Linked DNA regions of Homo sapiens: region 1 is linked to region 2. Evidence: fine-mapped expression QTL. A gene starts in region 2. The other region holds a variant in brackets. All regions are shown on one strand. Distances are between the middles of the regions.

Region 1 (4,252 bases), 110 kb after region 2:
AGGGCAGAGAGGGAAGGGCCGCGTCCTGGAGGAACCCCGGGAGGAATTCTGAAATAATCTCCTAGAAAAAAAAATTTAAAAAGAGTTCTGGGGAAAATTCTTTCTTCCATGGATAAATCCCTGGCAGTGAGTAGGGGTTGATTATTCTCTAGACTGGGTGTCCTTCGAGGAGCCTGCAGCTGACCTAGGCTGTCCCTTCATTAGGTGGCCTCGGGCTGGCTGGTGGGTTCTGTGTGTTCCCGCTCCTAAGGGAGCCAGGATCTGGCCCCTGGAGGCAGAACAGTAAGGCCCTGCGGTGTCCCCTCTGCCCAGGTCTTCTGGTAATGACAGGAGCCATGACATCATTTCCACTGGCCCACCAGGGGGACCAGGGCTGAAAAGACTGAGGAGGTATGTGGGCGGGTGTCCCCAAGACAACTTGGCATGAGGTGGGGCAACCAATTTCTCTTGCAGGTACTGGTCCCATCTCATAGCCGCACCCCTGCATCTGCCCTATCCCTTCTTGGACAGTGAGCCCCAGAGAAGGGGGAGCCCCAGGGTCCCTCTGGCTCATCACTCTGTGGGTAATGACAAGTACTTATTCGATAGTGATGATGGGGGGCCTGCACAGTAATTGTAATAAACTGAAAAGCTACCCTCTGGGGGAAAAAAAAAGAAAAAACACCAAACAAATCATAACCACAAGTTTTTGACTGAGTCTTCTCTGCCACTATCACAGAACTCCAGGAACCATAGAAGCTCAGAATTGGAAGGAATAGCCTCCAATTGAGTCCCCTATCCCCTCCCCATAACTGCCTTTGAATGCTTGCCAGTCCTGTTCTTGACTGACACCTCTAGTGCTGGGGACCTTGCATATTCCTAGGGGCTCTGCTTGCAGTGTGGATGAGCTCTGGTTGTAGAAATGGTCTTAGGCAAAATTGAAATGCTTCGCCCTGTAACTGCTCCCCACGGCCCCACACAGAACAAATCTAATTGCTCTGTCATGTAAGTCCTTCACACCCAAAATGACCTTGCCCTAATGATTTTGCTTCTCTAGCCCAAACACCTGAAATCCTTCCATAATTTCCCTAAATGGCGTTCCCCAACTACAGCACCTTGCTGGCTCAGCTCCTCTAGCCACAGTAACAAATGACCCTGCCACAATGAGGTAGCCCCCAGTGCCTGGGATGCTGGAAGCATTCTGAAGCTTGATCTAGGTGGTAGTTACACAGGTGTAAATATATGTAAAAACTTATTGGTCTGTAGATTTAAGATTTGTGCATTTTTGTGTGTAAGTTATACTTGATTAAAATGGTAAAAAGTAAAAATAAAAAGTAAGTAAAAATAAAGGGAGGCATTCCACCGTGAATACAGTACTCAGCCTCTTCATAGTCAAAGACCTATTGGGTTCTGGTACTGTACAAGGTCCTCTGGTTGAGATAAGCAGATATGGAAACAAGTTACAGTTGTCTCTCCATATCCCATATCCCGTGGGGGGATTGGTTCCAGGAGTGCCTGCAGATACCAATATCTGATAAGAACAGATACTACACTTGGTCTTGCCAAAAGGCTGAGAAACGATAGATACCAATATCTGAAGGTGCTCAAGTCCCTGATATAAAATGGCATAGTATTTGCATATAACCTACATCCATAGGCCTGTATACTTTAAATCATCTCTGGATTACTTATAATACCTAATACACTGTAAATGCTATGTAAATAGTTGTTATACTGTATTGTTTAGGGAATAACGACAAGAAAAAAGTCTGTACATGTTCAGTACAGATGA[A/G]TTTTTTTCCCAAATATTTTCGATTTGCAGTTGGTTGAATTTACAAATGCAGAACCCACAGAGACAGGGGGCCAACTGTGCAGCAGTGAGGTACCTTCTGTAATGGGGTGGTTTGAGGGCCTGGAGAGCTAAGTGTCTAATTCTGCCTGGGAAGGCTTCATGGAAGAGGTGACTTTTGAGTGGGGTCTGAAAGCCAAGTCTATATGTGAAAACGTTTTGCTTATTTTTGCTTTCTTCATCCCTTTCTCTGTCCCTTCTGTTTTCCAGCATCACACACTGTCCACCTCCTCTAGGCATCTTTCCCAGATGAATTAATTCTATTAAATTCTTATTTCCAGCAAGACTCTCATCCACTCCTGTACTGCTACCCTATCTTCACAAGGCCAGGTATTACATTCCACGGACTGTTCCTCCAGCCCCTTACGGGAGCCAGTTAAATCATGAGTTCCTAAGGGCTGGGAGTATATTTACCTGTGTTCTAACTCCACCCCTTCTCATGTGCCTCACATAAAAGAATGCCTTGCAGATAGCAAGTCCTGGACAAATAGCTGGTGAGGTGAATTGTTTGCACAAAAATTATACAATTACTTTTGGCTTTACATTTACATGTCTTATCTCCCACTTACAAGTTCCCCAAGGGCAGACGCTATCCAGTCTTTCCTTTGTGCTGTGTATTCACATGTCTGTTCTTAGTTGGGCACCTTGTGGTTATTCTTAAATTTGAAGGGCAAAACCTTGGATCCTTCTTTAACTACTCTCTGATTTCCCCCCTTATAAATTAGAAGGGAATTATCCCCCACCGTCACAAGCCAAGGAAAGTGATCTGAGACTCCCAAATATGGAAAGGTTACATTAATTGGAATAAAGGATCTGTGGGAGTAAAGGGTTCTCAAGCTCTTGGAGCCTGAAATCTATTAATTGCCTCAAGGGTTGGCTCTCCAGAAGCCTTTTTCTGACCTTCCTAGGCTCCCTCCTTGGGGCTCCCAAACTATCCTAGTGCTGATTCTGTTTAGTGCCGCCCTTCCAAGGCAAGGACCACAGGATTGGTTCATCACTGGGTGCCTGGATTTCTGACTCCTTGGTGAGAGGTGTTTATACTACACTGAACTCTTGTGTTTTTTTTTTTTTTTTGAGACGGAGTCTTGCTCTCTTGCCCAGGCTGGAGTGCAGTGGCATCATCTTGGCTCACTGCAAGCTCCGCCTCCCGGGTTCACGTCATTCTCTTGCCTCAGCCTGCCGAGTAGCTGGGACTACAGGCACCCACCACCACGCTCGGCTAATTTTTTTTGTAGTTTTAGTAGAGACGGGGTTTCACTATGTTAGCCAGGATGGTCTCGATCTCCTGACCTCATGATCTGCCCACCTCGACCTCCCAAAGTGCTGGGATTACAGGCGTGAGCCACCACACCCGGCCTTTTATTTATTCATTTATTATTATTATTATTATTATTATTATTATTATTATTATTATTTGAGATGGAATGTAGCTCTGTCACCCAGGCTGGAGTGCAATGGCGCAATCTCAGCTCACTGCAACCTCTGCCTCCCAGTTTAAAGTGATTCTCTTGCCTCAGCCTTCCAAGTAGCTGGGATTACAGGTGCACGCCACCACACCTGGCTAATTTTTGTATTTTTAGTACAGACAGGGTTTCACCATGTTGGCCCATGGTGATCTGCCCATCTCAGCCTCCTACAGTGCTGGGATTACAGGCGTGAGCCACTGCACTCAGCTGAACTCCTATGCTTTATACCTGGAAGTTGAGAAGCAATAAATCACCTGCAGATCTTGGACCATCTGTAGGTAATCTATGTCATGGAAACACACAGAAGAAAGTAAACGAACAATGAAATAAGAGTTAGATACCCTTACCACTATCCTTTTACATGCATTACAGCTGCAGAAATTCCTTAGTGTATAAACCCATGTTGTGTATTTTGTTTTTGTTACTGTTTCTGTTAGAACTGAAAACCTTAAATATTTAAATGAGATATAAAGAGAAGAGGCCTGATTCTCACCAGCCTAGTGGGGAGTCACTGGGACTTGGGCTTGATTTCATGCTTAGCAGGATCCTCTTAGTGACCTGGGGCTGCCCTCTGTCCCCAGGGCCTTCTGGTCTCTGCTTCCAGATTCTGCAGAGGCCAGGCAGGAGCAGTAGAGTGAAGTCTCCAGCTCAAGGTCATTAAGCACATCCTGCAGTTAGTCTGGCCATTCTGGGTCATGAAGCCACCCCTCCCCTATCTCCAGATTTTGTCTTGTCACTCCCTGTGTGGTTGTTTTGCTGGCCAGAGTGTGGCGGTGGATTGGAAGGCTCTGTCTGAGGTTGGCATGGGGCGGATGGCAGATAGTTTGGTGCCAAGGACTATACCTGGATGGCCCAGCCATCCTAAGGCACATGAATGCAAATACAGCAGAGGCGGGTGTGTGTACAAAGAGCCTCCTTTACCAAATATCCGGTTGAGCTACTTAGTGCTAGCCTGCCT
Region 2 (4,510 bases):
TGCTAAGGATTCAATGAGTTAATACACACAAAGTATTTAGAAACAGTGCCTGGCACAATTAGTAATGGTTAACTATTATTATTATTATTATTATTATTTTGAGACGGAGTCTCGTTCTGTCGCCCAGGCTGGAGTGCAGTGGCACCATCTCGGCTCACTGCAAGCTCCGCCTCCCGGGTTCGCGCCATTCTCCTGTCTCAGCCTCCGGAGTAGCTGGGACCACAGGTGCCTGCCACCACGCCTGGCTACTTTTTTGTGTTTTTAGTAGAGGCAGGGGTTCATCGTGTTAGCCAGGATGGTCTTGATCTCCTGACCTCGTGATCCGCCCGCCTCGGCCTCCCAAAGTGCTGGGATTACAGGCGTGAGCCACTGCGCCTGGCCAACTATTATTATTATAACATGAGGCTACATCAGCAGAAAGAGGGGGATTTTCAGAGCAGAGAGCCCTACTGTACCCTGTATTGGGTGGGGCCTGGCCAGTGCATCCACCTGGTTTAGTTGGGAAGGGGTGATTGGGTAGGGCCCAGGATCACCATGGGATCCAGGCTGTGTGCTCACTCCCCTGAGCTCTCCTTCCTCATCCCCCTGTCATAAGGCATAAAGCACAAGGGCCCCTGGAAAGAAGTGGTGGGAGGCAGGAGGAAGAGGGGGGCTCTTACTTGTCTGTGGTGCGACAACTCTCTCATGTTCCCAGTGTTCTTTCCCAAGCCTGCAAAATACCACCGTCCACTCTCTCCTGGCTCTGTAATTTTCCAGCTGACCTGAAATTTCCCCTGACTCCTGACCTCTTTCCTGGAGGAGAGGGGACACCAGCTCAGAGACCCTGGACTCCACCCTAGTCTCTCTGCTTGCCACGAGAGGGTATGCCAAAGACTTTGGAAAGCCATCTCCAGGAGGGTCCCCAGGTAGAGGTGTGTCTGCTCCAGGGAGGCAACGCTGAGACAGTTTTCAAGTTAAACTTGTTTAGTGACTCAGAAGGTAGATTCTTGATTTTTCTCTTCTCAACTCTCTCTGGCACCTGCTCTCTGTTCCCCACTACCACCAGGGCGCCACTATTTCCTCTCCCTTCTCTATCTCCCTTTCTTCTCTGCCTCCTTCTACCTCTCAGCTGGAAGGTGCCCTTAGAAATCATTTGGCTCACCCCCTCTTACAGAGGCCCAGAACATGGAAGGGACTTGGCCCACGTTATACGGCTGTTGACACAGGGCCAGCATTGGAACCCAGTGCCCCAGTGCCTGGTTGGCTAAGGCCAACCAGGTCTTCCCCTTCGAAGGCATCTTCCTGGGACTTTGTAGTATTCAAGTCAACAATCCAACTAAATTGGATTTCTCTCCACCCAATAAAACTCCATGGAGGAAAAAAAGACAAAACTGCCCCCCAACCCCCAACCCCAGGGCCAGCCTGGGACTCCATCAAAGACATTCTGGAACAGGTATCTGTTCGGACCTTGCTCAACAGCTGACAAAGAGAACATTTCATTGGCAATTTATCATCCATTCTTCCCCGTACACACTCTTAAGAAGAAAAAAAATTGGAATTTGGTTTTCAGCGCAGAAAGAGGGATTGAGTTAGCTCTGTCTGCGTCGGAGAATAGCAAAGAGCAGAAGGGTAATTCGGAGAGAATGTGACATCTCCTTTGAAGGGATGGTCCTGGACAGGTAGGGAGCAGCTCTGCCTGGAGATCGGGTGGCCAGAATGGCACGCCTGGGTAATGGTCGCAGCAGACTGGCTCCGAGTAGGGGAGGGGAGGTGCCCCGCGAAGCCGGGTAGCTTTCACCTAAATGTTTGGTGGCGAGCGACAGAGGGGGCGGTGCCCTGCCCTAGGTAATGATAGGGCAGTCTGGGAGCCACGCGGGGGCTGCCCGTCGCGGCGCGGCTACAAAGCCAGCTTCGAGACCTCCCGCTTTCTTCCCCTGGGTACCAGCCCCACCCCTCTATCCCCCCTCGCAGCACCCCCCACCTCCGTCCCGCCTCGCCCCGCCCCCCTCCTGGCAGTCCCAGCGCGCATGCTCTCTCCCCCCGCGGAGTAACCTGGAGATTTAAAAGCCGCCGGCTGGCGCGCGTGGGGGGCAAGGAAGGGGGGGCGGAACCAGCCTGCACGCGCTGGCTCCGGGTGACAGCCGCGCGCCTCGGCCAGGTAGGAGCGCGCCCCCTCCTCTCCCAGGGGTGAGGGTCCCGGCGCGGGAAAGGGAGCAGCAGTGCACGGCCGAGCTCCGCGCTGTCGCGTGTTTTGCGCCCCGCGGGATGGGGCTGCGCCGTGGCCGTCCGGGGCGCTGCGCGCCGAGCCCCGCGCGAATCCCAGAGGAGGGCGCGTCCCACACGCTCTGCCGGGGCGGGTGCCGAGTGCCCGGCGCCTGCACGGGTCCCCGCTGAGCTGTGCTTTCTTCCGCGGAGGGCGGGCAGGCAGGAGGTGCCCGCGCTGTCCCAGGCGGGGCGGCGGTGTGGGCGGGGAGCGGCCCCTCCCCGGAGCCCCGGGCCGGGCCGGACCGGGCCGGGCCGACGGCTGGCGGACCGGCCGCTGGCTCCTGTTGCAGCCTCCCGTGTCAGACTTTTCTTTGGAAAGTTGCGTTTATTTTCTTCTCTTGTCTGGGCTTCACCGGAAAGGGGCAGGATGAGTCACTGCGGCGCGCACAGTCCGGGACTTGGGGGAGCCGGGACGGGAGCCGACGGCCGCGGCGCCGCGGGGTGCTCAGGCCCAGGCCGGCTTTCTTGAGGAAGAGTGAGTTATTAAGACAGGGAAAGGGGACTGAGCCCTCTTGGACTTAGAACTGGGGCGAGCTCTGGGTACAGAGTTGGGACTGGACCGTGTGTGTGTGTGTGTGTGTGTGTGTGTGTGTGTGTGTGTTACTGTGTCCCCTTTTCAGCCTCAGTTTCCCCCTCTGTGGGGAGAGAAAGGCCGCTGTTTTCTCCTCGCCTCCCAGGTCTCAGGTGGGGAAGGACAGAGTTCTGCAAACGGCAAACAGGTGTGATGTGGTGGTACCTAGGCATCCCGTGCAGCTTCTCAGAGCTCTGGGCCTAGGCAGGCTTGCTAGAAAAGCCCCAGGGACCTGCATGCTTTCTCCCTAGTGCGGGTCAGGCCTTCCTGTAGTCTTCCGCTCCCCCCAGGCACTGCAGTCCTGTGAGTTGCTCTTGCCCTTGACCTCTGAATCAGCCTCCATCTTCCTGACAGACACTCTTGACCTGCTCAGCTTTTCCCCACTCCAGGGCGTGTTCCCTATGCTTCCTCTTTTTCCAAGGGGCCAGAGTTGGGGGTAGGGAGGGGTTTGGCATGGTGGGTACCTGGTGAGGACTCGCCCTTCAGCTGTTACACAGACCCGGTCCCGGTGGAGCAGGGACTAAGAATAGCCCAGCTGCTGTCTTGCTGCCCTGGAGTCTGCAGCCGGGCATTGCCAGTTGACCAGGGCCCGCAGTGACCCTTGCTGGGGTCCTGGAACCTTTGCTCAGGGGTGGGGTTGAGGTCCTAGGGGCTTCGGACTACCTTTCCTGAGGCACTTAGCAGATCTCCTTTCAGAGCAGAGACCGCCTTGGTGTAGACTCACCTGCCCGAGGCCTGGGAAACAGGCTGGCCTATTGGGGTGGGAGTGGGAGGGCCCAGGAGGCCCAGGCTAGACGGGAAGCCTGAGGAAACCCATAGAGCAGCATATTGTAGGGGATAAGTGGGACGCAATTTGAGGTCGCAGGCCATTCTGTTGGATCAGTCCCATTCCCTCATTCCTCCCTTATCTCCTCCCACCAGGCCTGTCGTGGAGCCAGGACTCTGTTGTTCTGAAAGTGCTCAGAAAATGCAGCTTGAGTCAGCAGAATGAGTTTGAAGATAAAAATACAGCTGTGGATGAATGTACAGCTGTGGACAGACAGGCCCCAATTTAGTGGGTGTGTGTTAGGGGGAGTTTTCCTATGTATTCATGGAGTGTGTGGTGAACTTCCCCATCCCTCCTGGCTCCCTGAATAACGTTGAAGGAGGAGGAGGAGTAGACAGTGATCCCTGGTGGTCTCCTGAGCCCATTCCAGGCCACTGGGTGGTGGAGGGATAGTGGAGGCCTCTCTCCAGCTCTCCCCTTACCCAGACTGGAGCTCTCAGCCTGGGCAGGGCTGGTCTGAAGATTCAAAGTAAAGTTAACTTGAAGACTTTAAGTACTATCATCTGGACGTCACAGCCTGATAAGTCAACATGGATAAAAACCCAGACTGTCAGAAAGATAGTTTCTTTTTTTAGACGAAGTTTCACTCTTGTTGCCCAGGCTGGAGTGCAATGTCACGATCTCAGCTCACTGCAGCCTCCGCCTCCTGGGTTCAAGTGATTCTCCTCCCTCAGCCTCCCAAGTAGCTGGGATTACAGGCACCCACCACCATGCCTGGCTAATTTTTGTATTTTTAGTAGATACAGGGTTTTACCATGTTGGCCAGGCTTGTCTTGAACTCCTGACCTCAGGTGATCCACCCGCCTCAGCCTCCCAAAGTGCTGGGATTACAGGTGTGAGCCACCGCACCCGGCCAGAAAGAAAGTTTC

The links. PIP is the estimated chance that this variant, and not a neighbour inherited with it, causes the effect.
Region 1: its variant is the best candidate, but not a certain one, in a credible set for the expression of SLC45A3 in tibial artery (GTEx, PIP 0.88).

The regions. Positions count from the first base shown.
Region 1 is chr1:205,564,025-205,568,276 of GRCh38, reverse strand. All of the region lies in intron 1 of SLC60A1-AS1 (SLC60A1 antisense RNA 1), which reads left to right. It also overlaps the pseudogene RNU2-19P. Among named protein-coding and RNA genes, the nearest start is that of SLC60A1, 2.9 kb to the left of the region's middle. The variant A/G (reference allele first, on the strand shown) is at 1,772.
Region 2 is chr1:205,678,021-205,682,530 of GRCh38, reverse strand. It overlaps SLC45A3 (solute carrier family 45 member 3), which reads left to right and starts at 2,022. Exons shown (of 5, transcript NM_033102.3): 1 at 2,022-2,137. It overlaps LOC105371701 (a long non-coding RNA gene), which reads right to left and starts at 2,161. Exons shown (of 4, transcript XR_007066825.1): 1 at 2,032-2,161. RefSeq lists a silencer at 2,258-2,477, a cis regulatory region at 4,151 and an enhancer at 4,067-4,236.